2 separate regions of the Homo sapiens genome follow, and region 1 is linked to region 2. The links come from fine-mapping of genetic effects on gene expression. A gene starts in region 2. The other region holds a variant in brackets. All regions are shown on one strand. Distances are between the middles of the regions.

Evidence for each region. PIP is the estimated chance that this variant, and not a neighbour inherited with it, causes the effect.
Region 1: its variant is fine-mapped to the expression of TLK1 in whole blood (INTERVAL, PIP 0.97).

The regions. Positions count from the first base shown.
Region 1 is chr2:171,283,289-171,299,694 of GRCh38, forward strand. The region is part of intron 1 of LOC105373737 (a long non-coding RNA gene); the gene reads right to left. Among named protein-coding and RNA genes, the nearest start is that of TLK1, 130 kb to the left of the region's middle. The variant C/T (reference allele first, on the strand shown) is at 9,566.
Region 2 is chr2:171,152,974-171,169,379 of GRCh38, forward strand. It overlaps TLK1 (tousled like kinase 1), which reads right to left and starts at 7,920. Exons shown (of 21, transcript NM_012290.5): 1 at 7,317-7,920. The coding sequence starts at 7,455. RefSeq lists silencers at 7,091-7,330, 7,601-8,320, 8,451-8,510 and an enhancer at 7,092-7,736.

The DNA.
Region 1 (16,406 bases), 130 kb after region 2:
GCTGGAGTACAGTGGCACGATCTTGGCTCACTGCAACCTCTGCCTCCCGTGGTTAAGCGATTCTCCTGCCTCAGCCTCCTGGGTAGCTGGGACTACCACCAGGCGACATCATGCCCTGCTAATGTTTGTATTTTTAGTATAGATGGGGTTTCACCATGTTGGCCAGGATGGTCTCAAACTCCTGACCTCAGGTGATCCACCCCGCCTTGGCTTCACAAAGTGCTGGGATTACAAGCCTGAGCCACCACTCCCAGCCTGGCACCACACTTTACTGCTTAACCTATATCTTTTTTTTTTCTTTTTGAGATGGAGTCTTGCTCTGTCACCAGGCTGGAGTACAGTGGAGTGATCTCAGCTCACTGCAACCTCCACCTCCCAGGTTCCAGAGATTCTCCTGCCTCAGCCACCTGAGTAGCTGGGATTACAGGCGCCTGCCACCATGCCCAGCTGATTTTTGTATTTTTAGTAGAGACGGGGTTTCACCAAGTTGGCCAGGATGGTCTGGATCTCTTGACCTCGTGATCTGCCCACCTCCACCTTCCAAAGTGCTGGGATTACAGGCGTGAGCCACCGCACCCAGCTTAACCTACATCTTATGACACTTTCCAAATGAAAGAAGAAAAACTTCAAGAGGACCACTTTATCTATCAAAACCCAGTAGTGGGAGATAGAGAGGATCAGTTTATTTTCCACTTCTCACTCCTAAATCTCATCAGCACAAAACAAATAAAGATCTAGCATGGCATCAGTGCAAAGATCAGCTCCTGACTCTAAAACAGAGCACAGAGCAGAAGGAAACTGTTTGCTTCATAAAACCAAGAATGGGTTATAAGTGAGGCCCCAAGTGCACCATGAATTGGGCTAGAAATCTGAATCCCAGTGTCATTATTTCAGGGAAACAGAGCTTCTCAGATGAGCAACTACTCTGGGTGAATGCTTGGGAAGCAACTGGTAACCTGGTGCTCTGAGAGCCTTGGGGTTTGGCCAGCTCCTATAGCATGAATGGTCTGTGCTGTCAATTCCTATCTCTCTGTCATCTGTATCCCTGCCTATCTAGTAGTGATCTCTTTCACCTGTGTTGCTCCTGCTTAAAAACTAGAATGCCACAACCTCTTCAAAGCCTGCCCCTACCCTCTGGGGACAGTGAACCATTCTCTCCTCTACTGAGCTCACTGGCTCTGGGCATTTTCCTCCATGGCATTCCTTTTCGCTGTGGATTGATGCTTTCTGTCCTCTCACACCCCAATGAACACCTTGAGGTCAAAGCATACAACCCTTTTTAGAAAAAAATTCTTTTAGGATTGATGGAAATGCATTGAGATGATGGAGGTAAAATGATGGACAGTGCCTGGTGCACAATAGGTGCTCAATAACTGTTCTTCCACTTTATTGGTTCTCCCACTTAGTATTCCCAGCACTCAGTGTGATTCCTCAAAGGCCATGGTTACTAAACAGATTTTTCGTGACTAAATAAATAAGTAAATAAATGAACACATTCTACCTCCTGCCTCAAGGGCAGGTGTCATGTCTCCTGCTGAGCTCCAGGAATATCTCCTTATTTTCATTTATATCTCTGAAATATGTGTAACAACACTGGTCACATGGCTGGGTATAGTAAATAACTTAATTGATTTTCTTTTGTTGCAAAAGATGTTGGTAGATTGAAATTTTACCTCTAAGGCATCTATAGGAAAGATGTGTTCTCCTATCTGTTTCATTTTGAGTAGAGTGAGATTGCCAGGGGTCTTATATACACAGCTTTAGGTCTCTCTAAGAAAACTTTAGCTTAACCCACTTGCCAATTAGAGGGTTGTTTTCCTTTCTTGATTTCTTTCTAAACAGTCAATAACTAATACAAACTCTAGAAGAATAAGCTCTCCAAAAGTGAGGACCCTGGTGAAATCCAAACATTTACTGCTATGATCCTAAGTAAGGGCAGGGAAGTCTCATTTATTTCCATATCCCTAGTGCCAGCCTAGTATTTAATGCATAGTAGAGACTCAAAAAATATTTCTTTGATAAATGAAGTTGCTTTTAAGGCAGTAAAGAGAAGTAAATTTATTAAATCTGCAGTGTAATTTTGTGATTATCTATGGCTTTAGAGTCACACAGTACAGAGATGAAAAAATAATAATTTGCCTATCTGGATAGAATCGTACAATTGAAAAAAGTGTTTTATCATGTATCGTATAGTATTATTTACATACCATTCATTGAGCCTCTAGTGTATAATAGGTGCTTTAAATATCATTGTATCTAATCCTGACAATGCATCTTGAAATGTTATTATAATGTCCATTTTACAGGTGGAAAAAACAAGCTTAGAGGGGCTAAATGATTTGCCCAAGGCCACAAACTAGTATTGGTCCCCACATTAAAATGTGAGCTTCATGTAGGCAGCATCTGGCACCAAGAATAGCGCCTGGCATATAGTAGATGCTAAATAAAGATTTGTTGAAGAATGAACCAGATCTGGCTGACTCCAAAGCCGTCATTCTTTTCATGACGTTATTTGCTACTCTGTAAACTGTCTTTTGAAGTATCAGAGCAAGTAGCACACTTCTTTACATCCATGAGGACCTGAGGTCCAGGGAAATGAAGTTAATTTTTCTACATTGCACAAGAGTGGCTGGGCCAGGAGTGGAACTCAAGTTTTCTGATAGTATTATTTTCTTTTTTCTAGTCTGCAGGGAGACCATGAGGCAGAGATAGGTTGTGGGCCACTTCCTTTCCTCAGGAAAGTTCAGGGGTCTGGCCTGGGGAGGAACATTTCAGAAGGAGTTATATCCAAAACTTTCTACCTAGAAAAGTGATTCAATGCTGGAGGAAAGTTATTTCCCCTGATAGAAGGATGGACTACTGGGGGATACTTTCTTATTCACAACACCAGAATCTGATGTTTTGAGACAGGGCTAGTCCTGTGGTGAAGTCTAACCAGGCAGCTGAAACCTGATAGTGGCTACTTCATCACACAATTTTATTTCTCCTAATCATATCACTTAAAATGATCACAGGCCTTTAACTTTTTAAGGAAGAAATTGGTGTTAAATTATACATCTTAAAGTCATTATGGTTTTTTTGGCCAAATAAACCCTTTCTTCTGTTTTTTTCATTGCATTTTTAATATCAAAAAAATGGGGGCCGGGCGTGGTGGCTCATGCCTGTAATCCCAACACTCTGGGAGGCTGAGGCGGGTGGATCACCTGATGTCAGGAGTTCAAGACCAGCCTGGCCAACATGGTGAAACTCCATCTCTACTAAAAATATAAAAATTAGCTGGGCTTGGTGGCAGGCGCCTGTAATCTCAGCTCTTCAGGAGGCTGAGGCAGGAGAATCACCTAGGAGGTGGAGGTTGCAGTGAGCTGAGATCGCACCATTGCACTCCAGCCTGGGCAACAAGAGCAAAACTCCATCTCAAAAAAAAAAAAAAAAAAGAAAAAGAAAATGGCTATGAACATCCTACTGTTAGTAGTAGTTTGTAGCTATGGCAACTCATATATCTATTTGTTAAGTACCCAACTAGTTGTGTCTCTATGCTAGGTGTACAGTTAAATAAGTAAGTAAATATATACATAAATAAATAACTACAAATTTACAATATTCCATACAGCATTAAGGAGACCACATAAAATTGAACAAACATATACCAGGCCCAGAACCAAATTAACCTACTATCTGAGATCATGTGCAATGAAGTCATTATAGCTACACAGGACAAGAGACTAGACCATCTAAAAGTCATTTCTTCCTTGCTTTCAAGTTCTCCATCCTTCCTTTCTTTTTCCATTTGTTTGTTTTTAATCTTTGAGTATTTTGCCTGTTAATCTTTTCAAATCATCAAAGTCTGAGTGAAGATAAACCAGAGCCTTTTCTAGTTACACCCACCTCAGGAATCCCCAAACCTAAACTCCCAGCAATAGCTTGCAGAAAAGCCATACAAACCATTCCTGGTTGGGAAAGAAGTCATCCTCATCAGCAGCTCATATGCTGACAAAGCCCAGCAAAGATTACATGTGGCCATAATAACTGCATGGATATGCTTCTCACAGCTGACATGTCTCTGCCTTCCTGGATTCTCACACTGTGTCCAGTACATGCCCTGGCAAAACTCTCTCCAAAGACACCAGAGTACTGGAGCTAGGTTTTCCTTGTCTCTTGTTCCTCCCCTCATCTCCACACTTAATAACTCCACATTGCACAGTGGAACACTTGGCAAGGCAAGAAAGAAGTCAAGCCTGGATGCTAGGGGCAGCTCCTGTCATGAGAAGGATCCATGACTGTCTCTTGCCCTTTTCTCTCCTCCTCAGCACACTTCTGCTTTCCCCTAATTTTTCCATCTTATACATATTTTATTGTTTTCTAAATATAGACATCCTAAAATCTCCGTGGAAAGACATCTATTGAAACCAGAGTGATAGCAAGTAATGTGCCCAGCAGGCAAATCGCAAAACAAATAGAGGGTGCACTCAGCACTTTTTTCTTCTGCTGCACAAAAGAACCCAAATAAGGCTCCTGGAACCATGGGTTGAGTAATCAAGTCCTTTTCCTGGATGTACAACAGCACAGCTTTGGGAGATAACTAATTCAGCTCGTGTAATTGTACACCCGTCTAGAAGAGGAAAAGGAAGCACAAAAAGAGAGAAAAGGAGAACAGGCCAAACTTTTAATGGCTTGCCCTCCTTCTGCACCTGCCATGACTTGCAAGCAGAATATTGTGTCCCAGCTGGCCACTTGTCCTGAATCTGAGACCCCAAGATACCCATTGCCCTTGGAATTAAAGAATTATAAATGGAATTTTTGCACCTGCAAATTTAAAAAAGAAAAAAAGATAGTGAGAAAACTTGGAAAGGTCCCTTGAAACATTTCTATCACCCTTGTCAGGCTGTGTTTACTGCCCCTGGTGAATGCTAACCAGACACATGAGTAAGGACTCTTGAGGACCATTTAGCTGTTTTACTGAAATTAATTTTGGTTCCTACAGATTAACCATAAAGACATGCACTGGCTGCAGGTGTGCCAAAGCCAGCATTCGGAGAAAATCCAGCAAATTTTGTGGAGATAGTTAATGACTCCTGCAAAATTAATTTAAATTGAAATAGGATAAGAACATATGGAAAGAATCAATCACTCCTCATTTTGAATGAATGTTATTTTAGCATGCATAGACTTCTGATATAATTTTCCTCCTTTCCCTTAAGGGTCAAGAAGTACTCAAACACTAAGTCTTTTCGCAAAAGAGAAGATTTTTTTTTTTTCTCCAAGAAAGAGGAGAAACGTGTTTCATAAATCTTTTTACTTGTCTAATGCGGAAATTTACATCTGGGGCTCCATAGACACTGCTCAAAGCCCTCTCAGAAAACACAACTCTGCTCTTGGGGTAATTATGCTTTCCTAGTGTCTGGACAGTGGCTCTGGCTTCCATTTAGAATAAGATCTGGGCCCACTTGTTATGCATGTCCACATTAACTGGACAAGTCATAGAATTTAAATGTGATATGAGGCGAAAACACAGAGGCAATAGCAATAGAATAGGATTAGAAAAGTCTTTTTCAAGTGTTTGGAAGGCAATTACTATGTTAAAATCCCACAGCCACGTGTTCACACTCTTGTACCCCCATTCCATGTGCAAAGCCATCTCCAGAGTTCTCTCTCCAGGGGAGTGAAACAGCGGCAGGCACACCCATCGTAAGCGGGGGCTCCCCCAGCATTAGTGCCACCCATGACGTTTCTTCTCCAAGACCTTCTTCTAATCCCATTTATAGTTTATTTACCCAAGTTATTTACACTTTGTTCCAGAAAATAGTTAAGACAACATTAATAATATAAATCCTCATCCACATCAATCACAGATATCAACTGTCTAGTCTTTACTTATTCTTCATTCAACAAATATAGATTATGGTTTTGTGCCGTATCAGGTATTATTTTAGGCACAGGGCAGGAGAGAATATAAAGAAGAAGAAAAACTAGTCCCCTTATTCTTGAGGACGATATAATTTAGGGGTCAAATGGATGCATAAACTTCTAAATAAAAACATAGCAACATTGTTCATGCAAAAATCATCTACTAATATTTTTCTCTCTTTTCACTTTGCATTTATTTTCACATATATTTATTGAAAACCTATTATGTGTCAGGCAGTATGCTAAGAATTGGGGATATAACTCTGGATACAAAAATCCAAAGAAGAATTTCAAAACAACATTCCACAATTCCAGGGACAGCAGGAAAGAAGTCACAAGACATCTATTTGTAATGTTTGTGCCAATGGAGATGGAGCAGAGAACTGAGAAATTTTTTTTAAAAAGTCATTTCTATGTGGGTTGGGAAGAAATCCTAAATTTTGTGGAAAGCAAGGAAATAGGGAGTGGTAAGGAACTAATGACTGCCTAGTTCAGCTTTCCTTAGGCTAATGTTACAATTAATCCCTGTTCCCTGAGCATTCATCATTCTGGGGAGTGGGGGGCAGATGGTGGAGGATTAAATCCAGATTCCAGCAGTTGGGGGGCCAAGCATTAATTGTATAAAATTCACAAAAGAGGTCACCTGGAATTGGCTGTATAAATAATTAAAAAGTAGGGAAAAAGGGGAACATGAGATAGCCAGAAAAGAAAGTCTTTGAGAGAAAAGGAAAGCTGGAGGAAGATACAATAAAAGACAAAATGAGACAGTAACAGGTCAAAAGGGTAGTATCTTTCCTCTGGTCCTGCTGACTAGAATCCTGGTTCAAATCCTTGGCCAACTAATTGGTGTAATCATTAGTTTATGTGCTCCATCTGCCTAGCATCCCTAGAGGACTGTGACCGTGTTCTGGTCATCCGTGTCTCCAAATCTCAGCACAGTGTCTGGCCCAGAGTTGGCCTTCAGTAAGTGCTGCTTAAATAGATTTTTTTTAAAAAAAGTGAATCATGTGAAAGAGAAGATAGAAATAAGTTAAACACACACGTATGAGGAGCTCTTCAAAAAAATTCATGGAAAATGTGTATTATCAAAAAACTATGCAGAGAATTCAAAATGTTTGCACTAAAATAAACTCATACTAATTTGTTATGGCATGTCTGAACAGGATCTAGTTTGGGGCACTAAGAAGGATAAGACATCAGTCTGAGAAGAGCCCCCATCAGAGCAACATGAATTCTGCTATTAATAAAATTGAAGCAAGAACTAATGTTAAGGCTGGGCACAGTGGCTCACATATGTAAACCCAGCACTTTGGGAGGCTGAGGTGGGCGGATCACCTGAGGTCAGGAGATCCAGACCAGCCTGGCCAACATGGCGAAACCCCGTCTCTACTAAAAATACAAAAATTAGTAGGACATGGTGGCACACACCTGTAATCCCAGGTACTCGGGAGGCTGAGGCAGGAGAATTGCTTGAACCCAGGAGGTGGAGGTCACAGTGTGCTGAGATAGCGCTACTGTGCTCCTGCTTGGGACAGAGCAAGACTCTGTCTAAAAAAAAAAAAACAAAAAAAAAACCAACATCAAATTTATGGTTTGTGTAGAAAAATAGTGAAATCATTGATGCTTTACAAAAAGTTTATGGAAACAATGTCCCAAAGAGATCAGTAGGGGTCTTTCTATGTTGCCCAAGCTGGTCTTGAACTCCTGGACACAAGCAATACTTCTGCCCCGGCCTCCCAAAGTGCTGGGATTACAGGGTGAGCCACCGTGCCCAGCCCTGAAATTCTTTCTGTTTCATAATCTTAAAAAGTCTTTAGCTGAGCCTGGTGTCTTACACCTGTAATTCCAACACTTTGGGATGCTGAGGGGGAAGGATTGCTTAAGGCCAGGAGTTCGAGACCAGCCTGAGCAACATAGTGAGACCTCATTTCTACTACAAATTTAACAAATTAGCTGGGTGTGGCAGCATGCACCTGTACTCCTAACTACTTGAGAGGCTGAGGCAGGAGGACTGCTTGAGCCCAGAAGTTCAAGGTTGCAGTAAGCTATGATCTCACCACTGCACTCCAGCCTGGCAACAGAGTAAGACCCTGCTTCTAAAAATAAAAATTAAAAATATCCTTTACAGTGCATCCATTTTTCTTCAGTTGACAATGCAAAAAAGATTGCCCTGGCCGAGTGCAGTGGTTCACGCCTGTAATCCCAGCACTTTGGGAGGCTGAGGCAGGTGGATCACTTGAGGCCAGGAGTTCAAGACCAGCCTGGTCAACATGGTAAACCCTGTCTCTACTAAAAATACAAAAAAAAAAAAAAAAAAAAAAATTAGCCAGGCATGGTGGTGCACACCGGTAATCCCAGCTACTTGGGAGGCTGAGGCAGAAGAACTGCTTAAACACGTGAGGTGGAGGTTGGAGTGAGCGGAGACCATGCCACTGCACTCCAGCCTGGGTGACAGAGTGAGACTCCATTTCAAAAGAAAAAAAAAAAAGACTGCCTTGACGTGGTTACATTCCCAGGACCCTACGTTCTTTAGGAAAAGACTAAATGGCTGGTATCATTGTTTACAAAAGTGTCTTCGGCTTGATGAAGCTTATGTTGAAAAATAAAGCTTATATTTTTCATTTTTATCTTTTAATTTAATAATCTTCCATGAACTTTTTGAAGTCCCTTCTATTCTGTACACAGGAGGCTTCAGTTACATCCCCTAAGTTTTGGTATGTTGTGTCTTCATTTTTCCTCTTTTCAAAGTACTTTTTGCCTCTCAAATTATTTTCTAATTTCTCTTTTGATTTCTTCTTTGTTCTTTGACCCATGGGTTATTTAGGAGTATATTGTTTAATTTCCACACATTGTGTTTCCCAGCATTTCCACAGGGAAATGACAATGTTAAACTGGGAGGCCCAAGAAGAACACCATTTGGAGAGGACAGGACTAGATTAGAATGAGCAAAAGGTTTCCTGGTGACCTCTGCTAATACACCTCATCTACATATACCCACCCTCCAGCTCTCCACCCAGAGAACACAGACGTGCTCAGCAGATACTTTTTTTTTTTTTTGAGATGGAGTCTTACTCTGTTGGCTGGAGTGCAGTGGCATGATCTCAGCTCACTGCAACCTCCACCTCCCAAGCAATTCTCCTGCCTCAGCCTCCCAAGTAGCTGGGGCTACAGGTGTGCACCACCAAGCCTGACTAATTTTTTTGTATTTTTAGTAGAGAGGGGGTTTCACCATGTTGGCCAGGCTGGTCTTGAACTCCTGACCTCAGGTGATCCACCTGCCTTGCCCTCCCAAAGTGCTGGGATTATAGGCATGAGCCACTGCATCTGGCCCAGCAAATACATATTCTTCCAACTCATGGATGAGAAATCGATGTCCACGCATGGTCTGACACAAGGTACCATGTAGCGTGTAGGAGAATTGGAATTCCAGGCAGGTGATAGGGCAAGATGGTTAGGAGGATAGGTTCAAATCTTCATTCTGCCATTTTTGGGCTGGGTGATCTTTGGAAAGGTACTTAATTTCTCTAGGTCTCAACTCATTTGTAAATTGGGATAATAGTACCTACCTCATAAGATTATTGTAATAGTAAAAATAATTCACATAACCCAGCACCGTGGGAAGCTTTCAAAAAATGTTAGCCTGGTCAGGCACAGCGGCTCA[C/T]ACCTGTAATCCCAGCACTTTGAGAGACCAAGGTGGGCAGATCACAAGGTCAGGAGTTCAAGACCAGCCTGGCCAACATAATGAAACCCCATCTCTACTAAAAATACAAAAAATTAGCCAGGCGTGGTGGTGGGTGCCTGTAATCCCAGCTACTCAGGAGGCTGAGGCAGGAGAATGGCTTGAACCTGGGAGGCGGAGGTTGCAGTGAGTGGAGATCACACCACTGCACTCCAGCCTGGGCGACAGAGCGAGATTCCATCTCAAAAAAAAAAAAAAAAAAAGAAAAGAAAAAAAAAATCCGGTGTTTTTGTTAGCACTTCGTGACCTGGAGCTGGAAGCCTTTAATATTAACATGCTGCTGTACTCTTGGGCCCCCACTGATTCCTGGGTTTGAATCCTGGCTCTCTCATATAATAGCTTAGGAGACCTTGACCAGGCCACTTACCCTCTCTGCATCTCGGTGTCCTTGTCTTTCAAAGGGGCCCTCACAAGGTGATTGTGAGTAGATGAATGAATATGGGTAAAGCTCAAATAGTCCCTGACCCATGCTAAGTAGAGACCCCATCCCTACACTGATGAAATTTAAATTCTTGCTAGGGAAACAGGCGAAAACCAATAAAGAGGTAATTATGTAAAACAGTTACCAATTGTGATAAGTGCTATGAAGGCTGAAATAAGGCTTAAAGAGAGAATGGGGAGGGGAACCTACTTAAGTGATTAGGTGGTCAGGGAAGCCTTTCCCAAGGAGGAAACATTTCAGCTAAAAGCTAAAGGATAAAAAGGATAAATAGAACTAAGGAACATCTTAATCTCAGCCTTACCAAGAGCTGAAGGAAATATCTTCAAGGCATAGGGAACATCAAATGCAAATAGCCAGAAATGCATTTCAGATTGAATTCCTACAGTATCCGCTATTGTAGAATTCCTTAACATGAATGTATCATTTTTACATAAACATGATAGCAAGTGAGATACATGATGAGACATGAACACGTGTCAAATACACATTCCTGAACATTGCTCAGCATTTAATTGACCTGTGCCCATGTGTTACAATGGTATACAAATGTGTGCAATTTTATATAAACGGACACGTGTAGACCTGAATTTTTCTAAAAGACTAATGCAGACCTAAAAATTAATTAGTGACACGTTTAAGATATTCAATTAATGGATAAGCAGAGACTGACTAGAAAAATTAAAAGAATAAAAAATGATGTTCAAATAAAAGCACAAAAGAGACAGGAGGAACTCTTGTTTTTAGGCTTGCACAAAAATTCACCTGGCAGCACAAGTTGACGTGTGACCTGTTTCCCATATGTTAAAAATTTTGATATATAACACGTTTGGATGTGCATGTTCCTGTGCTTTAGGGAAGTTCTTTTTTTTTTTTTTTTTTTTTTTGAGATGGAGTCTTCTTCTGTTGCCCAAGCTGGAACGCAGTGCTGCAATCTCAGCTCACTGCAACCTCTGCCTCCCAGGTTCAAGCAATTCTCCTGCCTCAGCCTCCCGAATAGCTGGGACTACAGGCATGTGCCACCATGCCCAGCTAATTTTTATATTTTAAGTAGAGATGGTGTTTCACCATGTTGGCCAGGTTGGTCTCAAACTCCTGACCTCAAGTGATCCATCTGCCTTGGCCTCCTAAAGTGCTGGGATTACAGATGTGAGCCACCGCGCCCATCCTCAAGGACAGTATTTTAATAGTTAGAAATATACATATTTAGAACAAGAAAGAAATGTCTGTGGAACCCCTAACATAATTTCACTAAACTCTTCAGTGTCACAGAACAGTTTGAAAAGCACTACTGCAAAATAATTCCAGATGGGAAAAAGTTAATTTTCCACCGTCCTCCATTCTCTCCTTAGTGACTAGTTTCGTTTCATTCATTCACTGAACAAATGTACTGAGCTCTGTGCTCATTACTCTTTATCCCATGCTCTCCTCCTGCCCTCACCTATTCTCCATTCTTCTCTGCCCAGGGTGGTGGGAGCGGTCCCCTAAGGGCTGCATCATCCAGGATCTCTGCCTTCCAGCTTCTGATTCCCTACAGCCAGTGGGAGCAAGGCATGGTTCTGGCAGTGACGGGAACTGGAGCTCCTGCTGGGTGCTCCTCTTAGGCACCTCCAGTGCTCACCAGCTCTAGTAACGGCTTTTCCTCTCCTTTGTAGGCTAACTGCTCCCCTCTTTTGCTAGTCTTTTGGTGCTTCAGCATCCTTTGTGGGTTTCCTTAACCTTGCCCACACTTCTGTAAACTGCCCCTTCATTAACATCTCTTCAAAATCCAAAATGAATGTATTTTCTTTTGCCTGCTAAGACCCTGACTCAAGCCTCTACTATGTTCTAGACCATCCCTGCCCAATAAAAGGATAACAGGAGCCATATATATACTTTTAAATTTTCTAGTAGCCATGAAAGACAGTAAAAAGATGCAGATAAAATTAATTTTAATAATATATCCTATTTAACACAATACATCCCAAACATTATCATTGTAACATGTAATCATTATAAAAATTTATTAGTGAGATAGTTTACATTCTCTCTCTCCCTTTTTTTTTTTTTTTTTTTTTTGAGACAGTCTCTGTCTGTCACCCAGGCTGGAGTGCAGTGGCGAGATCTCGGCTCACTGCAACCTCCGTCTCCTGAGTTCAAGTGGTTCTCCTGCCTCAGCCTCCTGAGTAGCTGGGATTACAGGTACCTGCCATCACAACTAGCTAATTTTTGTATTTTCAGTAGAGACGGGGTTTCCCCATGTTGGCTAGCATGGTCTCGAACTCCTGACCTCAGGTGATCTACCCGCCTCGGCCTCCCAAAGTGCTGGGATTATAGGCCTGAGGCAGCACGCCCGGCTGTCTCTCTCTTTTTTTTTTCGTTGAGACAGAGTCTCACTCTGTTGCCCAGGCTGGAGTGCAGTGGTGTGATCTCGGCCCACTGCAACCTCTGCATCTCAGGTTCAAGTGACTCTTGAGCCTCAGCCTCCCAAGTAACTGGGATTACAGGCATGCACCACTATGCCTGGCCAATTTTTTGTAGTTTTAGTAGACAGGGTTTTGCCATGTTGGCCAGGCTGGTCTTGAACTCCTGGCCTCAAGTGATCTGCCTGCCTCAGCCTCCCAAAATGCTGGGATTACAGGTATGAGCCACTGTACCCAGCCTACATTCTCTTATTCATACTAGGTTGACAAAACCTGATGTGTATTTTACACTCACAACAATCTCAGTTGGAATTTATCACATTTCAACTGCTCAATACCCACATGTAGCTGGCAGCTACCATACGGCACAATATAGTTCTGGATACTGATTTAGGGCTGGAGATAGATGCAAAATACAGTCCCTAACATCTTAGAGTTGATGGTCCAGTAAGAAAGATGGACACACAAACCATTAGAAAATAATGCAGCAAATGCATAATTAATGCTGTGTACAAGATGCTGTGGGAATAGAGCTCTTTCCATCAATGGGGTTTACAGAGAGATAATAGATATTAACATTTGAGCAGATCCTGAATGATCAAGGATTCTGCCAAGAAAACAAGAGGGTGGAGAGGACAATGCAGGCAGACAGACATAATCTTCACCTTTCCATCTACCCTCGCTGTATCAGCTGTTCTCTGACTATGCTCCTGAGACAGGCACCCTGCACACCAAGGGTGCACTTGGATCTCGCTAGTTACTGTGGTCCAGGTTTGGATGGACCTCTGCAGTCTTAGCACAGGCTCGAGGAGTATAAGTTTTCAAAGGAAACACAACTAGGAAATAAGGGTGAGATATGAATGCGGGGAGAATGCCTATAAACAGACATACTGAGAGAGCCTGGAGCCATTTTCCTAAGGTAATGGAACTCTGGCCACTGACAGGCTTCAGTGGCTCAGGTTCCTGGGCACAAAGCCTAACCTTATTTTCCTCATCTAATCTGTCTCCTTTGCTATTCAGAAAGCATTGTCACTGGCCAGGTATTAAAGCTCATTGTTTCTAACCTTTGGCAACATTTTGGTTGTTATTGTTTTTCATCTTTTCCCCTTATATGAGCCCATTTCTCTAGTAGTCCCAAGGATTTGAGGACCAGCACTGACCTCCCTCTAGATTGTCTCTCTCACATGAAAATCCTACTATTTTTAGTCAAATATAGCTCTCTTTTCCCGTTTCAAAACTCAGACGCCCTATAGAATAGCTCAAAAAGTTCTTATTTTGGCCAGGCATGGTGGCTCATGCCTATAATGCCAGCACTTGGGGAGGACAAGGTGGGAGGATGGCTTGAGGACAGGACTTTGAGAGCAGCCTGGGCCACATAAGGAGACCCTGTCTCTACAAAAAATTTAAAAAGTAGCCAGACGTGGTGGTATGCACCTGTAGTCCCAGCTGCTTGGGAGGTTAAAGTGGAAGGATTGCCTGAGCCCAGGAGGTTGAGGCTGCAGTGAGCCATGATCATGCCACTGCACTTTACCCTGGGTGACGGAGCAAGACCCTCTCTCAGAACAAACAAACAAACAAACAAAAAAGAAGTTATTTTTGTCTCAGAGGCAATGTTTGTTCTCTACTCTCTGAAGGGAGGTTATAACTTAAGTGACCCAAGGCCAAGGAATGGTCACGTATTTTCCGCTCTAACTTACCTTCTCAGCATACTTTGTTAGATATTTTTGGAAGATTCACCTCACTCTCTTAAATCCTCCAAACCTCAGTTTTCTAACATAAAAGTACATCACACACATGAGAGCAACAAAATAGAGCTGCTCACCTTTCAAGCCTAGGGCCTCCTGTGAGGTTCTCTGATCCACTTTGGGAAGCCATCAAGTTCCCTGCAGACCTCTTTGCGTAACTCCATGATACTTAATAGCTGGTGAGGATTTTTAAGGATACCCAAGCAGTAATGGGAGAGGAAAGGAGGATAACTATTCTTAGATACTAAAAAAGAAGTATGCACTTAACTCAGACAAACATTCTGGCGCCTTTCTGTATGAGCAGAATCCTGATTTCCAGGAGGTTGGAGAGCCATGGCTAACTGTTTACATCCTTGGTCCGCAGCAGTCAGATGGTATACACTGTAGCCTTATTTTCCTTGTCTCCTTCTTAAATCAACCATAAATCATGTTCAATGCCAAGCTTTCTGCAAAAATTCCCTGTGGTTTCTTTTAGTCTCTCACTCCAACTATCACATTGTGATTCCCATTGGCAATAATGTCGGCATCTGTTCTCCATACCAGCACTATTTGCAAATACTTTGAGACCGTGCCCTTGATTACTACTCAAAAGTTCAACTTCTGTTTTCTCAGAGCTAAAACACATACTGTATTATCCAGTTTAAATAGTTTCCAATCCTCATCTGGGCAGCAGGCTTCATCAGCTCCTCCCATTACTCATATTGTTTTTTTTTTAATGCTTTTAATTCTTTTCTTTCAATTGACTCATGTAGAGATGATTAACTTTGGTCTTGAACATTGCTAACCTTCCCACTCTGAGCTGTGCTTCATTCCCTCCTTAAGGATCTCTTCCATCCATGATGTCGTGGATTCTAAGAGGTTCTTTTACTCCCCAAAGCAGTTTATTAATACCACCTTTTTGTTTTTCTTCTCCATGGTCTAAATTAGATCTCAGAAAATAAATAAATAAATAAATAAATAAATAAATAAATAAATAAATAGGATCTCAGTATGCTAGGAATTAGGCAACAATTATATATAAAGAATCAGTTACGGCCAGGCGCGGTGGCTCATGCCTGTAATCCTGGCACTTTGGGAGGCCGAGGCGAACGGATCATGAGGTCAGAAAATCGAGACCATCCTGGCCAACAAGGTGAAACCCTATCTCTACTAAAATACAAAAAATTAGCTGGGCGTGGTGGTGCATGCCTGTAGTCCCAGCTACTCAGGAGGCTGAGGCAGGGGAATCGCTTGAACCCGGGAGGCAGCGGTTGCAGTGAGCCGAGATCGCGCCACTGTACTCCAGCCTGGCGACAAAACAAGACTCAGTCTCAACAACAACAACAAAATCAATTATTCTTAAAGAGAAATAATTTATATGGTTTACAATTTCTTTTATCTCTCTGGCTTAAAACATTTGTTTGTAATGTGCATGTGTGTATGTGCATGGTTTGGGTTTGGTTTTGGTTTTGTGAGTGTGTGTATGTATGTGGTTTGATTTTGCTTGTTTGTTATTTTTCTAAACGATTTGGTTGAACAGTTATTCAACAGAGATGACTGCACCATTCTGAGCACTGTCAGGCAGTCAGCATTTTTATGAGCTGCCCCTTTGGCATAGACTCTGTGTTTCTGGACTTGTGAGAAAATACATACTCGTACACTCATATGTGCATGTCTGAACATACACGCAAAACCAATACAGAAATTAAAACAACAGAGAAAGACACTTAGCCAAACCCAGCAGACCAAATGATTACATCTATGTTATATAAAGATTTGCCTTATAAGTTAATCAAAGATATTATGCATTTATACAAAGACCAGAGGAAATCATAAATTGTAATGAAAATCAGGAATGTTCTAATACAATTAGTACTTTTTTTAAAAGGTTCTCCATATATCAAGTACTATTGTATACACTTTACATTGAGAAATCCATACAACATCTCTGAGATAGAAATTATTATTATCCTGCTTATAGATGAGAAAACCAAGCCCCAGAGAGGTTAAGTGACTCACCTATGGTTTCACAGTCAGATAAATGGAAAAGGGCACAACCAGACAATTCACATAAGATAAAATGCAATCTCAAATGAAAAAATGTTCAAGATTGCCAGTAATCAAATAAATGTAAATTAAAACATTAAGTAATTTCATACCGCACCTTTGGGGAGGCTTAAACTATCACTCTCAGATAT
Region 2 (16,406 bases):
TGGGGTTTTTGTATTTTTTTAAATCTTATCTTCACACGTGTATAAAAACTCATGCAAAAAAAAGTTAACAAAAGTTTAGAAGTAAAATGAATAAGCCTGGAAGTCTGATTAGTAAGTTAAAATCTGCTTAGGAAAAACTACTAAAATACTAAAAACCAAATTTTCATATTTTAGGCAATATATCCTAGTGATTAAAATACACCAACTTGGTTCAAATCCCCATCATGTACTACTCTAGGTCACACTGGTAAGTCACTTTACTTCTCTGTGCTTCAGTTTTCTCATCTGAAGATGGGAATAACAACTGTATGTAACTCAGAGTTATGAGATATAAGAATTAACATGTGCGAACACAATAAACTTTAGCTATTACTGTTACTGTTATCCATATCACCCTCTAAAATATAGTTCACTTAAGAATTACTAAAATAAGCATCTTCCTGGGTCTGAAATATGTGCATACCATGATATATAGAGAGATGATGTATGTGAAACAGTCCTTTGACAAAACTTTTAGTTGAGTGCCAACTCTGTAGAGGATGTCCTCCTGTGCACTGAAAATACGAAAATGAACAAAATATAGTCTCTGAATTCAAGACCTTTCTGTCTAGTAGACAATATAAATAAAACTATAATAAAAGTAGCATGATGCAGATGCTATGGAAACAGACAATCCTGTGAGACACTAAACAACACAGGCACTTAACTAGGGGCAGACACAGGGGTCCCAGATAAAATAAACTCCAGCAATATTTTCTGAGGAACAATCACCTACTTACTTCACTTCCGGGTATCACACTGTTATTTACGCAATTTATATTATTAATATATTAATAAGTGTTTTACAAAAAACAAGACTACCTATCACACTACTTACCATGCTCATAAACTTAAATACCCTTTGGTATTAATGAAGATGTTTTCTTTTTTCTTTTTTGAGACAGGGTGTCACTGTGTTGCCCAGGCTGGAGTGCAGTGGCATGATCATAGCTCACTGCATCAACTGCAGTCTTGAACTGCTGGGATCAAGGTGGGATCCTCCCACCTCAGCCTCCCCAGTAGCTAGGACTACCGACATATGCCACCATACCCAGCTAACTTTTTTTTTTTTTTGAGACAGGATCAGGCTAGTCTCAAACTCCTGGACTCAAGCAATCCTCTTGCCTTGGTCTCCCAAAGCTGGGATTACAGGCCTGAGACATAGCACCTCGCCTGATGATATTCTCTTAAAAAAACAAAATATAACCTTGCAAAGGTTATACTGCCTCTTCAAGAAACATTTCTTTCACCAATAAATAAAAGCTACAAACTTTCCCCTAATAAATTATATTACGACTAATGTCACAGGAATGACAATATTTTTGAGCTGGAAGAGACCTTTGAGAGCCTCTAATCCAATGCTCTCATTTTACAGATGAAAAGAGGCTGTAAAGTATAATGGAAAAAAAAAACCAACCTGAGAGTCAGAAAACTGAATTTTGGGCCCAACTGTCTTACAGTGAAAGCCTGTGCAAATTATCTGCTTCCTCATCTGTAAAATGAGAGGTTTGTACTAGATTGCTTCCAAGATCCGGTTCAGCTCTGTAATTCTTAGTTTATGGAACTGAAGCAGAGATAAGCAACTTGCCCAAGGTCACACAGCTAGTTAATAGCAAAGTAAAGACTATCCTCAGATCCCAACTACAATCACTTTCTCCCCTATACCATACTGCTTCTACTACTTCATAACAATATTCCTGTAATTTATTTTAAGATTCTTGAAAATTATTAACAAGCATGAAGGAGTTTATGAAACTACATGACTGATTTCTACAGCTCTTCTATAGGAAATGAGCTTTAAATCCAAATGCAACAAGTACATGAGGTCTCAAGCTGGGTATTATTACTTACTACACTTATTAATATTAAATTGACCCCAAGAAAGTTATGAGAATTTATGCTTAAATTCCCACCACCTAAAAATCCAACTCACAGAAGAGATTATGTGCCATGCAAAATTAAAATATGAATTGTTATAAGTAATGATACATATTATAGGTATAATTCTAGGAATAAGATGAGAATTTAAATTCTTCATTTTATGTTCTAGTTATACTTAATATGCATTTTAAATTCAAAAGAGATCAATTTAAACACTTTTCTTTCTTCTTCCCTCTTTTCAGACTCTCTAGCTTTAAAAACATTAGAATAACTTAAGCATATTACTTCTGAAATCACGTAAACAATTACAAATAAAAGACTATATAAACTATGCTCATAATTTCTCTTACAAAATTGAAAATCAGCCCCCATAGTATTCTAAAATTCTGTGCTGAAATATATTACAACTCTACTAAACTGTATCATAAACAGCATTTGGTTCTCTAAAATGTCTTAAGCTTATTATATTTCACAGGGAATTTAGCAAGATTTCATGAAGACTGATCTTGCTGACACAAGAAAAGACAGAAAAATCCTCAGAGGAAAAGCACAATAAAAATGCAAAATAGTAATAAAGTCAACAACAACAGTAGTTTCATACTACTGACTTGCAAGAACATTCAAAAACGTTAATGAATATATATAAGTATAGTTTAACTATATTTAGGGATTTTTAAAAAATCACAGAATGTTTACATTTTTAAATTGGATGAAGCCTTAAGTCACTAATCCAATAGCACTCATCGTAAGAATCTACAGAATTTATCTCCACCTCCCCAAAAAATATGTCCCTGTAGTCCACTTTAAATTCTCAAAACTAACTACTTCTTTCCATTGTTGTTAGCTGTTGCGAGTTCCATTGTTGCTCCACTGTTCCACTGTTCCAAGTCTAGTTGTCATACAGTTCTTACATTCTGGTAAAAAATTAGACTGACCTCAATGTCTTCCTAATTTTCACCCGTTGGTCTGCCTTCTAAAGCAGGAGAATGGATCTATTCTCCCTCCTATTTATTAAAATTAACAGGTTTTTAAATCCTATTTACTGAAATCCAAGTTTCTTAAATACCTGGAGACAGCTATCACGTCTCCCAACCGTTAGTCTCTTCTTTAAATGTATCTTCCATAGACTTCCTGTAGGTCCTAGAGACATTTTTGGAATACAATATGCTTTCACATTGTCAGTAACTTAAAAAACAAAAAACAAAAAACTGCCACTTGTTGAATTTTGATGTAATACCAAAGAAGAATACTCACTCTTTCCTTTTCCAACCATATATCTACATGAAGCTGGATTCTCTTCACATATCTCAACCAAAACATCATAACAGACTGAAGGCAGACAAAAAATCCAGCTGTCTTCTCCAAGTAAGCCAGAAATCAAGGTGATTTGCAAAAATATAAAACAATGCCACTGGTCTAGTTTCTTTGGTTTTAGGACATATTTATTCTTCATAAAAAATTCTATTTACAACACAGTTTAAATTAATAAATATATTTGAAATTGTCATTTAATTTCTAAAAGAGCAAATATTAGTAGATATAATCTACATAAACCTAAATCTCTTGGGGTCCTCAATAATTGTTAAGAGAGTAAAGAGGCCCTGAGGCCAAAAGGCTAAAGCATAGTCTATTTCTCATAAGATTTTCAAACCTCCGTTCTGGTTTCTCTCTTTTATCTCTCTCCTCTAATATGTAAATGTGCCATTGTAAAGGAGACATCTGTCACATATCTATTCATGAGCTAGAATCCTTAAACACATAACCCTGTCCTCCTCCAGCTAGTGATTTCAAAAAATTAAAGGCCTACAGGGCCATCTGGTACACCTTCGTTTTTAACATCTCATTACTAAATCATCTGAAGTCAATTACTTTAATTCTTCTAAGGAATGCAGTCTTTAAATATGGAAACAGAGGAAGTTTACAGTTTAATCGAACTATCATGCCATCTTTTTTTTGAGAAAGTATCTCACTCTGTCACCCAGGCTGGAATGCAATGACGCTATCTAGGCTTACCGCAGCCTCCACCTCCCAGGCTCAAGCAATCCTCCCAACTCAGCCTCCTGAACCATGCCCAGCTAATTTTTCTATTTTTTGTAGAGACAGGGTTTCACCATGTTGTCCAGGCTGGTCTTGAACTCCTGAGCTCAAGCAATCCACCTGCCTAGGCCTCCCAAAGTGCTGGGATTACAGGCTTGAGCCACCACTCCTGGCCCATACAATCTTTTTGACCAAGCTTTCACTATTTACAAAAAAGTAAAGCAAATTATTTATAATTGGCAGGTTGGAGCAGGAAAGAAAATGCAAGTGTTCTATATAATCAATCATCTGATTCTCAGCAATAACCCATTCAAAAGTACCCATGTACTGATATGCAAAAAAACCCAACTACTTATCTAGCCAATATGACACTAGGTTCCTAGACTTCAACAAAGCAAAACTGGCCTTTACTTGAAAACCTTTTTAACTCGTCACTCCCTTAATCACAGGATTATAGAAGACAAAATGGGATGGAGATTATAGGTTTAAAAGATTCAACAGAAAATCTAGAGCTACATCGCTGAACTCCTCTAACAGAACCACAAGACTGACAAGCGAAAAGCTTTGGGACCCGAGGGAAAGAAATCTATACTATATTTATCACATAATTTCCTAAATTCTAATAGATTCCCAAATCTTATAGAGCTGTATTTTATTTGTGATAAAACTATGTGAATATGATAATGGTAATAAGGTAAAAAGAAACAAAACTACAACATACAGCATCAAAAATAATCAGATCATAATCTTAGGTTTGTGGTTTCAAATGTCAAAACTTCAAAATAAGTAACTTTTACAGATGCTTATGGCATATTTTTAAAAATAACCCATTTTCAAAGTTAAGTCTGCCTAAAAGGAGTTCATCACATAGAATATTTATGTAAGTTCACATACATGTGTATCTCTTTTAAGTTTCAATTATTCTATTACTATATGTTAAACTGACTCAATTTTTCAAGAAACAAAGTTAGTTTTCACCGTGATACATACAATACATTCAAGTTCCATTAATATTAACGGTTCTTACTAGCAGTAACTAGCAGTTAAAAAGCTTTCTAAAACTTCATCAATTTATATAATGTACTAACATGTATACCTGGAAAAGGTGCTAAACACTTAAAATAAAAACTGAGATTTCGCTCAATAGAAATCATCTCCATTTTGACACTCAGGGCTTCATATTCCTGTTAGCGTTAGTGAAATCTGAGAACACATCGCCAAGCTTCAAAATGAATATAACCCTAGAGAGGATTAATAGTTTCAACTTGCATGCTGGTTGGTCAAAAAGAAATATCCCCCTGTAGCTATACAGGTACTCGGTGTGAAGTGTAACTTTCACAAAAGCCTGTCCTATGATTTCATGAATTAACAGAAACTCACTACTTTAGGTTACATAAAAACCCACTGTAATCTAAACTGCCGGAAAAAATTATGGTTATTTGGAAGTTCAAGCTAAATGATTCCAACCCCTCCAAATTTTCAAACATCAGGAAAAGTGCAGAATGTTTTTAAGTTGAAGTAACCTCAGAAACTCACAATCTAGATGTTTTGTCTCCCAAATTCCCAATACTGATAACAGATATCAAGAGATAATTCAACACTATGTCCTCAGTATCCAGTTCACGGCCTGGCTCACAGTAATGGCTCAATAAATATTCGAGAAACGAATGAATGAATGAATGAATGAATGATGATATAGCCTTAAACAAGAAACAATAAAATGGTCTTTTTAAACTCATAACACTAACATTAAACATCTTAATGAAACTACAAACAAAAGTAAAAGCATGCTAAAAGCAAGCATCAACTTCTCTATGAAATACATTTTAAACCGTTCATTTAAAAATTTTCAAGTGCAAAAGAATCACCAGATATACTAAATTTCTAGTCATTTAATAAATAAACTTCTATATTCTAACAATGAAAGCTCAGCGTTGGGATAAGATGAAAGGGGGAAACGTCTGTCAATGTATTCCGCATGTTTAATGGATCCCATAAATCAAAGCTTTCCGTGAATTTTCTAGAGCATATTCATGCCAATCTTTAAGCCTATTGTCACTTTCACACATGCTCACAGGAACAAAATGACAAAGAATGCTATGCCTGAACCACTGGATTCAGGGCACAAAACACTTGATTAACACTTGTCAAGGCTCTGACTAGCAAATATCGACAGATATTTTCAAAATAAAGTACTCGCACCGATTCCTACATAAATCGAAGCTCTTGATTTCTTTAAAACATTCACTAGACGGTTGAACTTCCAGACATTTGAAAATGTGCCTATCTCCTCGTGTGCGACAACTAGGAGTGAACAGCCCGTCTACCAATTGCGGATGAATACCGCTAAGCTTTTTCCAGACTAAAGAGCGTTAAAAGACATTCCATGCACATTTATTCATTCCCCATAAATGTGTTTTCTCCCAAATTTCATTTTATGTTGTATACTTAGATACAGCAAGTTGAAATTTTAGTCAAAAGCACGCCGGTGCCTTACAAGCTGTGTAACTGCTACATCTGGTGGCAGCCCACTTGCTTGCAAGAAGCCAGAAAACTTAGAAAACAATTGTAACCGATTTGGTGCGTGTTTGCAATAACCTTTACGCAGATATTTCCCACAAAACCCACGACCCTGTCACAGAAGAACAGTAGCCTACTTGCAGCAGAGAATATAACGCACAAACACGCAGGAAGCAACGGCGAAGGAGAGAAAGTTGCAACCATCTGGAGGGGCGGTTTTAAAAGCCTGCCCACGAGTCAGTCTGTCGTTTAAATTGCTCTAGGGGGCCACACAGGGGATCAAAGTCTGCCCAGATAATTTCAGCGTCTCTCCCCAAAGGAGAAACCCAGCAAGCGAGGGGCATCCTCCAGGTCCCGGGCAGCAAAGCTCGCAAAGTGGGGACCGCCTCTATGGGAGGAGTGCGCGGGAGAAGGGGAGGGGGCTCGAGGACGAAGGCTCCAGCGGGAGGGAAAACCCACCAGAGACCGGAGGCCAGGAGGTTAAGAGTACTGAGTGTACTGGCAAATGGAGCAGAAAGGGGCTCGCGTCTGGGGGGAGGCTTCCCACCCTCGCAGGACTGGCTCCCAGGAACCCCAGGCGAGTCTATGCGCCTCGCCCCGTCCCCACCAGCGCGCACCCCCTCGTCCGTCTCCTCCGCCACCCGCGAACCACCATCCACAGCCAGGGCACTACCTCCCCAGAGCCGGGGAGCCGGGCGGCCTCGCGTCCACCTCGCCACCATCCCCCACCCCAGGGTCTGGCGGAGAAGCCCCGGGGCGGGGGGGGCGGGGGGGGGGCGCGGGGGTCCGCGGCGCGGGAGAGGAGGCCCGCGAGCGGGCGCGGGCGCGGCGGTGCTTACCTTCCCTGGGCCTCCCGGATGGCGGCGTGTGATTCAGCAGGGACCTGGCCGCCGCCGCCGAGCCCGGGGTTGGAGACGTGGAGAGCTGGGACCAAGATGGCGGCCCCTCCAAACTTCCACTGCTACTTTGGACACTCATCAAGCTACTTTCTGGGAACCCGACTCCCCCCCTGCGACGGCAGCGGCGGCAACGGCACCGGCACCCGCCTCCGTCATGGCGGGGGCCGCGCTGAGGGCGAGCGAGAGAGCGAGGGCTGGGAGGGGAGAGTCAAGGGGATGGGGGAGGAAACCGAGAAGAGGGGAGGTGGGGAGGAAAGAGGTGAGGGAAGGAGAGGGGACAGGGAGGAGGGAAAGGGGGAGAAGCGAGGGAGCGAGCGGGCGCGCCAGAGGAGAGGAGGAGGAAAGGAGCGCGGCGGCGGAGGCGTCGAGGGGGTGCCAGCCGGGCCGGGGTCGGAGCGCGGGCGGAGCGCGGGCTGCGCCGGCCGAGGACACTTCCGCGGGCGGAACCTGCCGGCACCTCTGCAGTGCGTCGGCCCCCGGCGTCGCCCGGGAGGCGGCGGCGGCGGGCTGTGGGTGGCGGCTGAGGCGGTGGGGTAACCTCTGCATCAGTTACAGGCGGCGGCGGCGTCACGCGCCGCCTGTGCAAACACTATCGCGAGGCTCCTGCGCCTCCGGTAGCGGCGGCGGCGGCGGCGGCGGCAGCGGCGGCCGCGGGAGCAGGCTTGGGGGAGGGACCTGCCAGGGGCTGGGGGGTGGGGGCATGGGGAAGGAGCGAGCGCGCGAGGGAAGAGACTAGAGCGCCGGGGCGCCCCTGCCGCACCCGCGGATCGCCGCGCGGCGCGGGAGCCCGGGGTTGCCGGACTCGCGTGCGCGGGGGCAGCGTCCCCGCGCCGGCCGGAGGGAGGCGCGCCCCCGCCGCGCCGCTCGGGCTCCAGCGCCGCTGCCACCTGACTCCCCCTGTCTCCCGCGGAAGCGCGCCTCTCTCCTGACCCACACCCAACACGGGGAGAAATGCTGCTGCTCTCGCTCAGCTGCCGCTTCTCGGGAGTTCAATGTGATCGTTTCTCAAAATGGAACTGAAAAGTTGAGAGTTCCTTCTTTCTTGCCCCTCTGTACTGTGCAGAAAAACGTATGTGCGCCTCCCCGTCTGCAGAATGGGAATAATGACCGAATAAAAGAGCTATGAAAATAAACATGGGTAGTGGGAGAGTTGGGAAATAAAACTTTCTCGTGTTTTCTAAAAAAGAGTGAAGAATCTTTAATGAGGAAATTGAAAATTACCAGTTTTGTAGACTGTATGGTATAGCAATTCTTTGTTTTAAAACAGTAAGTGGAAAATCTAAATGAAAAATGTGATTACTGAATCACATATTTAGGAAAACTATACAGCGTTCATCTTGCAGAAGGTATGGTTTCTAGAAACTTATAATTTGTTTCTAGTGTCTCCGCTGAGTCCCGACTACAAAAATCCCAAAATAAATAACAGCATTTGCTAAAATTTATAGATAGAGTGTAGCTTTCTACAGACCCACACAAGTATACTCACACCAGGGATTGGGCTTCTTGTACATAAAAGAGCACTCTAGTTCAGGAAAAGTACAACAAGGTTATTTCTCTCTTTAGAAAACCAAATTGAATAGAGCACTAAAAAGATTATGATATAGCGCTACTGCACAGACAAGAGGAAATGGCATGATTACCAGGGGGACAAAAATGTCGTTTCTATTTTTTATTTTTATGACTTCGCATTTCTCATAGTAATGTTTTGTTCAGATAAACTATCATACTAGAAAAGAACCTTGATTGTCAGTTATCTCCAGAAGTAATTGTAGTTGCCTTGTGCTTTAGATACTTCAGTGAGTTTTTAGTCTTGTCTGCTTTTCAAACTTAAGAGGGACATCTCACAAACAACTTTATTGAGGTATAATTGACAAAATAAACTGCACATATTTAAAGTGTACAATTATTGGCCAGGTGCGGTGGCTCACGCCTGTAACCCCAGCACTTTGGGAGGCCGAGGTGGGCGGATCACGAGGTCAGGAGTTTGAGACCAGCCTGGCCAACATGGTGAAACCCCATCTCTACTTAAAATACAAAAATTAGCCGGGTGTAGCGGCACGCGCCTGAAGTCCCAGCTACTCGGGAGGCTGAGGCAGGAGAATCGCTTGAACCCGGGAGGCAGAAGTTGCGGTAAGCCTAGATCGCAACGTTGCACTCCAGCCTGGGCGACAGAGCGAGACTCCTAGACTCTGTCTCAAAAAAATAAAAATAAAGTGTACAATTTGATAAGTTTTGATGTGTATACCTCCCTGAAACCACTTCTACAAGGAAGATGGTGAATGTATCTATCACCCTCCAAAGTTTCCTCTTTGTGGTTCCTCCTCCACACTACTTCCATTCTCTCCAACCACAGATCTTTCTGTCATATGGGTAGCTTTCCATTTCATAGAATTTTAGATAAATGCAGGCCATACAGTCAATTTGTACTCTTGTCTGGCTTTGGTTTTGTTTTTTGTTTTTTGTTTTTGAGACAGAGTCTTACTCTGTTTTGCCCAGGCTGGAGTGCCATCTCGGCTCACTGCAGCCTCCGCCTCCCGGGTTCAAATGATTCTCCTGCCTCAACCTCCTGAGTAGCTGGAATTACAGGCACGTGCCACTACATCCAGCTAACTTTGTATTTTTAGTAGAGATGGGGTTTCACCATGTTGGCCAGGCTGGTCTCAATCTCCTGACCTCAGGTGATCCGCCCACCTTGGCCTCCCAAAGTGCTGGGATTACAGGCCTGAGCCACCGTGCCAGGCCTTGTCTGGCTTCTTTCACTCGACATTATTTTTTTGAGAGATTCGTCCACATTGTTGCATTATCAATAGTTTGTTTTTATTTTTAAGTAGTATTACACTGAATGAGTGTACCACACTTGTTTATCCATTAAACTATTGATGGACATTTGCATTGTTTTCACTTTTTGGCTGTTACGAATAATGCTGCTAAGAACATTCATGTACAAGTCTTTCTGTGGACATAGGCTTTCCTTTCCCTTGGATACATACCCAGGATCTTGCCATTCGATTTTTATACCTAAATACATGCACTATAAGAGGAACAGAGTTTCTGTAATGACATGTTGATAAATGTATGCTCTTTCTGTATTTTTAAGAGTAAGCTTAGTCAGCAGATTGCGGTGAAAAGAACATGGGACAGGAAGGAAGTTAAGAGACCTGAGTATTAGTCTCAGCAGGTAACTTGATTCAATTTCCTCATCTACGAGAAAGAGGTTAGAGTCACTGAGTGATTTTTAAAGCTCCTACCAATTCTGAGACTGTACAGAGCTCAGTTCCTCTCAAAAATGGTAAACAAAGCCCAACCAAAAAGGTTTGATGATGGTAGGTTATCTTTCTCCCAACCTTCTCCAGAGCTTCAAGTTTTTAAGTTATCCTTATGCCAATTCATAGTACTTTTTTTTTTTTTAATTGTCACCCAGGCTGGAGTGCAGTGGTGCAATCTTGGCTCACTGCAACCTCTGCTTCCCAGATTCAAGGAAGTCTCATGCCTCAGCCTCCTGAGTAGCTGGGACTGCAGATGCCTATCACAATGCCCGGCTAATTTTTTGTATTTTAGTAGAGATGGGGTTTCACCATGTTGCCCAGGGTGGTCTCAAACTCCTGAGCTCAGGCAGTACACCTGCCTTGGCCTCTTAAAGTGCTAGGGTTACAGGCATGAGCCACCACGTCCACCCTAACTCATGTTATATTTAATGCAGATTGGCTATGTTTATTTTTAATGATAACTAGAGGATTACAGCATATACATGATCAACTTACTTTAGTTATATTTTTGTTGTGGATACTTCCTTAGAAGGACAATTAAATGTTTGATTCCTGTCTTCATGTGGTTTTTGATAAGACAGCACTCACCAACCTTTAAAAAAAAGGCTTTTACTGGCAATGGGGAGTTATTTAAACAAACTGCAGCTTAGCCTGAAAATGGAATGTCATGCCATTATTTAAAATCATGTCTTCAAAGAATACCAGAGAAGATAACATTTTCACACTATAGTAAGTGAAAAAATGGATATGATCTGGATTTATTCCTAAGTATGCATCAAAAACACTGGAAGTACTCAGGAGGCCAAGGTGGGAGGATCACTTGAACACAAGAGTTCAAGACTAGCCTGGGCGACATGATGAGACCCCATCTCTTAAAAAGAAAAAAAACTGGAAGGATGTGCCCCAAAAAGTTAATAATAACTAGCCTTGGGCTGTGAGATCACATAGTTATTATTTCTTTATGTATGCTTTTCCAAATTTTGTAAAACAAATCATGTATTTCTTTTTATATTCAGAAAAAGTTCAATAAATACGTTTTAAGTAATTGAAGTAATTGAAGCATAAAGAAGGCCTCTGGACATAAGTTGTGCAAATACATAATTTTATAAAATGATTATGTCAAATAAATGAAAACTTTTAAATGGCAAGGAGAAGCTCCTCCACACCTTGAAATTTGCTAGTATATGGGCATTCAAAAAATGTCCGATAAAAAAATAGATCAAGACTGGGCACGGTGCCTCACGCCTGTAATCCCAGCACTTTGGGAGGTTAAGGCAGGAGGATCACTTGAGCCTAGGAGTTCTAGACTAGCCTGGGCAACAGAGTGAGACCCCACCTCTATCTAAAAAAAAGAAAAAGATTAGATGGCTAGAGTGATAGATTACACAATAGGAAAAAATATAGAAAAGTCAGAAGAGTTCAGATTCAGACAGAAAGAGACACGTGCCACTCTGTAGGGAAGAAGAAATCTCAAGAGCAAGAAGAGATCATTGGAAGCTTTCTGGCAATCTTCCATGGAGGAATATTCCCAGAGGGAAAGCCAGCTTGAGAACACAGAAATGAACTGAGCAAGTAAAAGGTAGTAAACCTGCCTAGAAAGAATCAGGAAGAGACTAGAGAGAACGTTCTGAGTGCTCCATGAGGACAGGGCCTTAAGCCTCTAGTACAGACCAAGGGCTCTGTCAATGTTGTGGAATTAATGAATGATGACGATCAATGAGCTGGGTTTCAGGTGATAGGGCAATGCAGGAGAAGTCTTCAAGGGTCTCCTGATGGAAGGTCAGATGCAAAAGGTGAAGGTCTGAGCCCCGATCTATAGGATGATCATAATTTATAACTATGTTTAATAGACTATTTTCTATTTCTATACCATAGTAAAAATATTTACAAAGCATCCAATATTATAGACATACTAAAATGCATTTTATACTCTTAACTTCTAAATTCAAGGGAAAAAATTAATGTCTGAGCCACCTAAGCCCCTTTCCCCCAAACCAACAAGAAATTAGCCCAGAGGCTGGGGGCTGTGGCTCACGCCTGTAATCCCAGCATTTTGGGAGGCCGAGGCGGGTGGATCACAAGGTCAGGAGTTCGAGACCAGCCTGACCAACATGGTGAAGCCCCATCTCTACTAAAAATACAAAAATTAGCCAGGCATGGTGGCGCACACCTGTAATCCCAGCTACTCAGGAGGCTGAGGCAGGAGAATTGCTTGAACCCAGGAGGCGGAGGTTGCAGTGAGCCGAGATTGCACCACTGCACTCCAGCCTGGGCAACAGAGGGAGACCCCATCTCAAAAAAAAGAAATGAGTCCGGAGACTGGATGAGGTATACTTTCTGAGTACTCCCATACAGTGGGATACTGGAGCCTGTTCATAATGTCCTGGGAGAAGATTATGTACATGGCTTCCCAACTCCACATTCAGTAATGTTACATGTTACAATTGTAGCTTGAAGTCAGCCATGGTGAGAGTAGTTATAACTCCTAGGTCAGCAAAAGCTACAAGTTAGAGCTGCTTCTCCCCATCAGAGCCAATTATTAAGCATTCACCAGCACACCACTGCTCCCATCGTACATTTGTCATTGCTGTACTGTTCTCTGTTCTCTATTTCCCCCTCTTGGCTGAAAGCCTAGGGAGAGCAAGGACCCTTCTCTGTAATGGTTACAGTTGTGTTAATACCCAACATCTAGCACCTGCCTGGCATACAGTTGTGGAGCCAACCAACTACCTACACAGCTGGTTAATAAGCACTGGAGTCCCCTGAGCTAACCTGCTCATAAACATCTGGGCTGGCCATCTAGCAGGGGAAGAATAGGCCAAATGCCCCACCACCCCTTCACACTCATCCTTCATTGCCCAATGTTTGTGGTTTGATAAAGTTCACTGACCTTGTTAGGGTTTTCAGATTAAACTATGAATATTGTGTAGGCCATATTTATCCTAAAATGTTTTTTATTGATTTGAAATTCAAATTATCTGAGCATCCTGCATTTTAATTTGCTAAATCTGGCAACCCAAGCCCTTTTGAAGTAAGCAAAAAGATATTTCGTAAGGTAGTATCTGTGAAAGACGAAGATTCTCTGACCTGGCAGTTCCGTTCCAAAGAATGTATCCTAGAGGAATTCTTGCTGCTATGCACCAGGAGATAAGAACAAGAATGTCCGCGGCACTACTGTTTGTAGTAGTCAAAACCTGGAAATTACCCAAATGTCCGTCAACAAGAGAATGGATAAATTAGAGATATGTATATTTGTACAGTGGGATACTACACAACAATTAAAATGCTCACAAATATAATGCTCATTAAAAAGAGCAAGTTACAGAAGAACAAAGTCAGTTTGATTCCTTCTCAAATATTCAAAATCATTCAAAACTAAATCATATATTGTTCAGGAATACATTAAACTACAAGGAAAAAAATGGAAATGAGAAGCCAAGATCAGAGTGGTTACCTCCTTCAAGGAAAAGGGCACATGTGATCATGGGAACTCAGAGGGACTTCAAAAACACTGCTAAAAGCACCACTTGTTAAGCTGGGTGGGAGTACGGAGGTATGTTTGTCTTATTCTTTCTCTTTAAACTACATGTATATATTAGATCTACTCTTACATGTATGAATTATTACATTACAAATGTTGAAATGAGGAGTATTGGGCCTTCTTCCTTCTTATCAGAGTGAATTGAAATGTCAACAAGGCCTCCTCTGCCTGGACTCACCTCCAAATTTTTGTTTCCTTCTTTGTCCAAAGGTATGAATATAGATCAGAGCTCTTAAGATGCCTACCCTGCAATCTCAACACGCCCCCTCAATAGTTTTTTTGATTAGTTGCTTAGACAAATGGCTCCATTACATTAGATTATGAAGAATTCTCATTTCATTAAGTTGGTTCTATCTTCATTGCACAATTCACAAAACCACTGCTTGAAAGTTTTGGTTTCCAAATCCTGAAGAGATAGTTCCAAGCTTTTGTATATAATAGGCTAGATTACACTTCCTCTGCTCCCTCCAGTGATGGAAATGTTTTCTCTCAGATTTGTCAATCCATTTGAAAAAAAGAAAACCCTTGGTCCATACACAACAAAAACTGGAATTACTAGATTCTCAAACAAAAACTGGAATTACTAGATTTATTTCACCTGAGGTTAAATAATTGTAACCAACTTCAGAACAATAATATCCCCTCCCCCAAAGTGCACTAGAAGCTATCCTCCAAGGACATGGTATTATGAAATGTTTACAAAAACAAAGTACAACAAGCAAACAGTGCTCATATTACAAATTTTGAATCAATAGTGTACCTCTTAACAAAGCAGGCAACTTTGAAAAGTAATTTAAAAATATATAAATTATAATTTATAATTATAATCTAGTGTTACACTTTACTTATCCTAAATTTTACTGATTAAACCAAAATATAAATTTATCACATTAAGAGGGAAAAACAAAAATGCCCAAAATCTTACCCTGGACATTGTTTCTGCAGCATAAATTTTTTTGTAGGCAAAAGAAATGGAAGTTTCTTTTCGTAAAAAATATCAAATATCTTTGATCTTCGACAATATCTTTCCCACTCCATAGTTTAAAGATTTTCAGAATTACTTAATGCATTCCCAGAAAATAAAAACTAAATGCCAAATCTTTCTTAATTCGATACATGGCAAAGGAGACATATATAACCTCATATGAATTTAGAAACTTTGAAACAATATGGGAATGTAAAATATTGATGAGAATTTCTTCCTCCTCTTCCAAAAAAAATAAAAAAATAAAAAAATAAACAGTCAAAATGCCACCATGAAGTAAGAGCGGGGATTCTGAGCTGCAAGTGATTTTTTTGTTTCATGATCCAGGTGCTGATTAGAAGTGTGTATTCAGGGCGCTGTGGCTCATGCCTGTAATCCCAGGACTTTGGGGGCAAATTAGGAACATTCTCCCATGGATTTGTCATAATTCAATGAACCATGAATCACTGAATCATAAAAAGAATTCATAGTTTGGAAGATAGGGGTTGGAAAGAACTGGTGTCTAAAACAGACTTTAGCTATAGATACAAGATAATATAAACACCAATAATGGGAGATAAGATGATGCTAAGTCTAAAATGTTAATAGAACTATCACAACAATATAGTTACATTGAGATTTTATTTATAATGATGAGAGTTATTCTGGAAGTGTGTGCTCAGGGTGCAGTGGCTCATGCCTGTAATCCTAGCACTTTGGGAAGCAGAGGCAGGTGGATCACTTGAGGTAAGGAGTTTAAGACCAGCCTGGCCAACATGGTGAAACCTCGTCTCTGCAACAAATACAAAAAGCCGGGTGTGGTGGCGCATGCCTGTAATCCCAGCTACTTGGGAGGCTGAGGCAGGAGAATCGCTTGAACCTGGGAGGCAGAGGTTGCAGTGAGCCGAGATCTCGCCACTGCACTCCAGCCTGGGCAACAGAGTGAGACCCTTTCTCAAAAAAAAAAAAAAATTTGTTTTTTGATCCACTAATTTCATTCTGGGAATCTATCTGGAAGAAACAATCTTAAATTAGAAAAAATGTGTCTGTGCTTTTTCTCTTTGTACACAAAGATAATTCTATTCAACATTATTTATAGTAACAATAAAATTGAAAATAACGTAAATGTACAATATTAAGCATATGGTAATAAATTATGGCTCATCTATCTTATAAAATATGATAAGGCCATTAAAATGTTTGTGAAGATTTTATAATAACCAAAAGCAATAGTTTGCTTATAAGAGCATCTCAGTGAA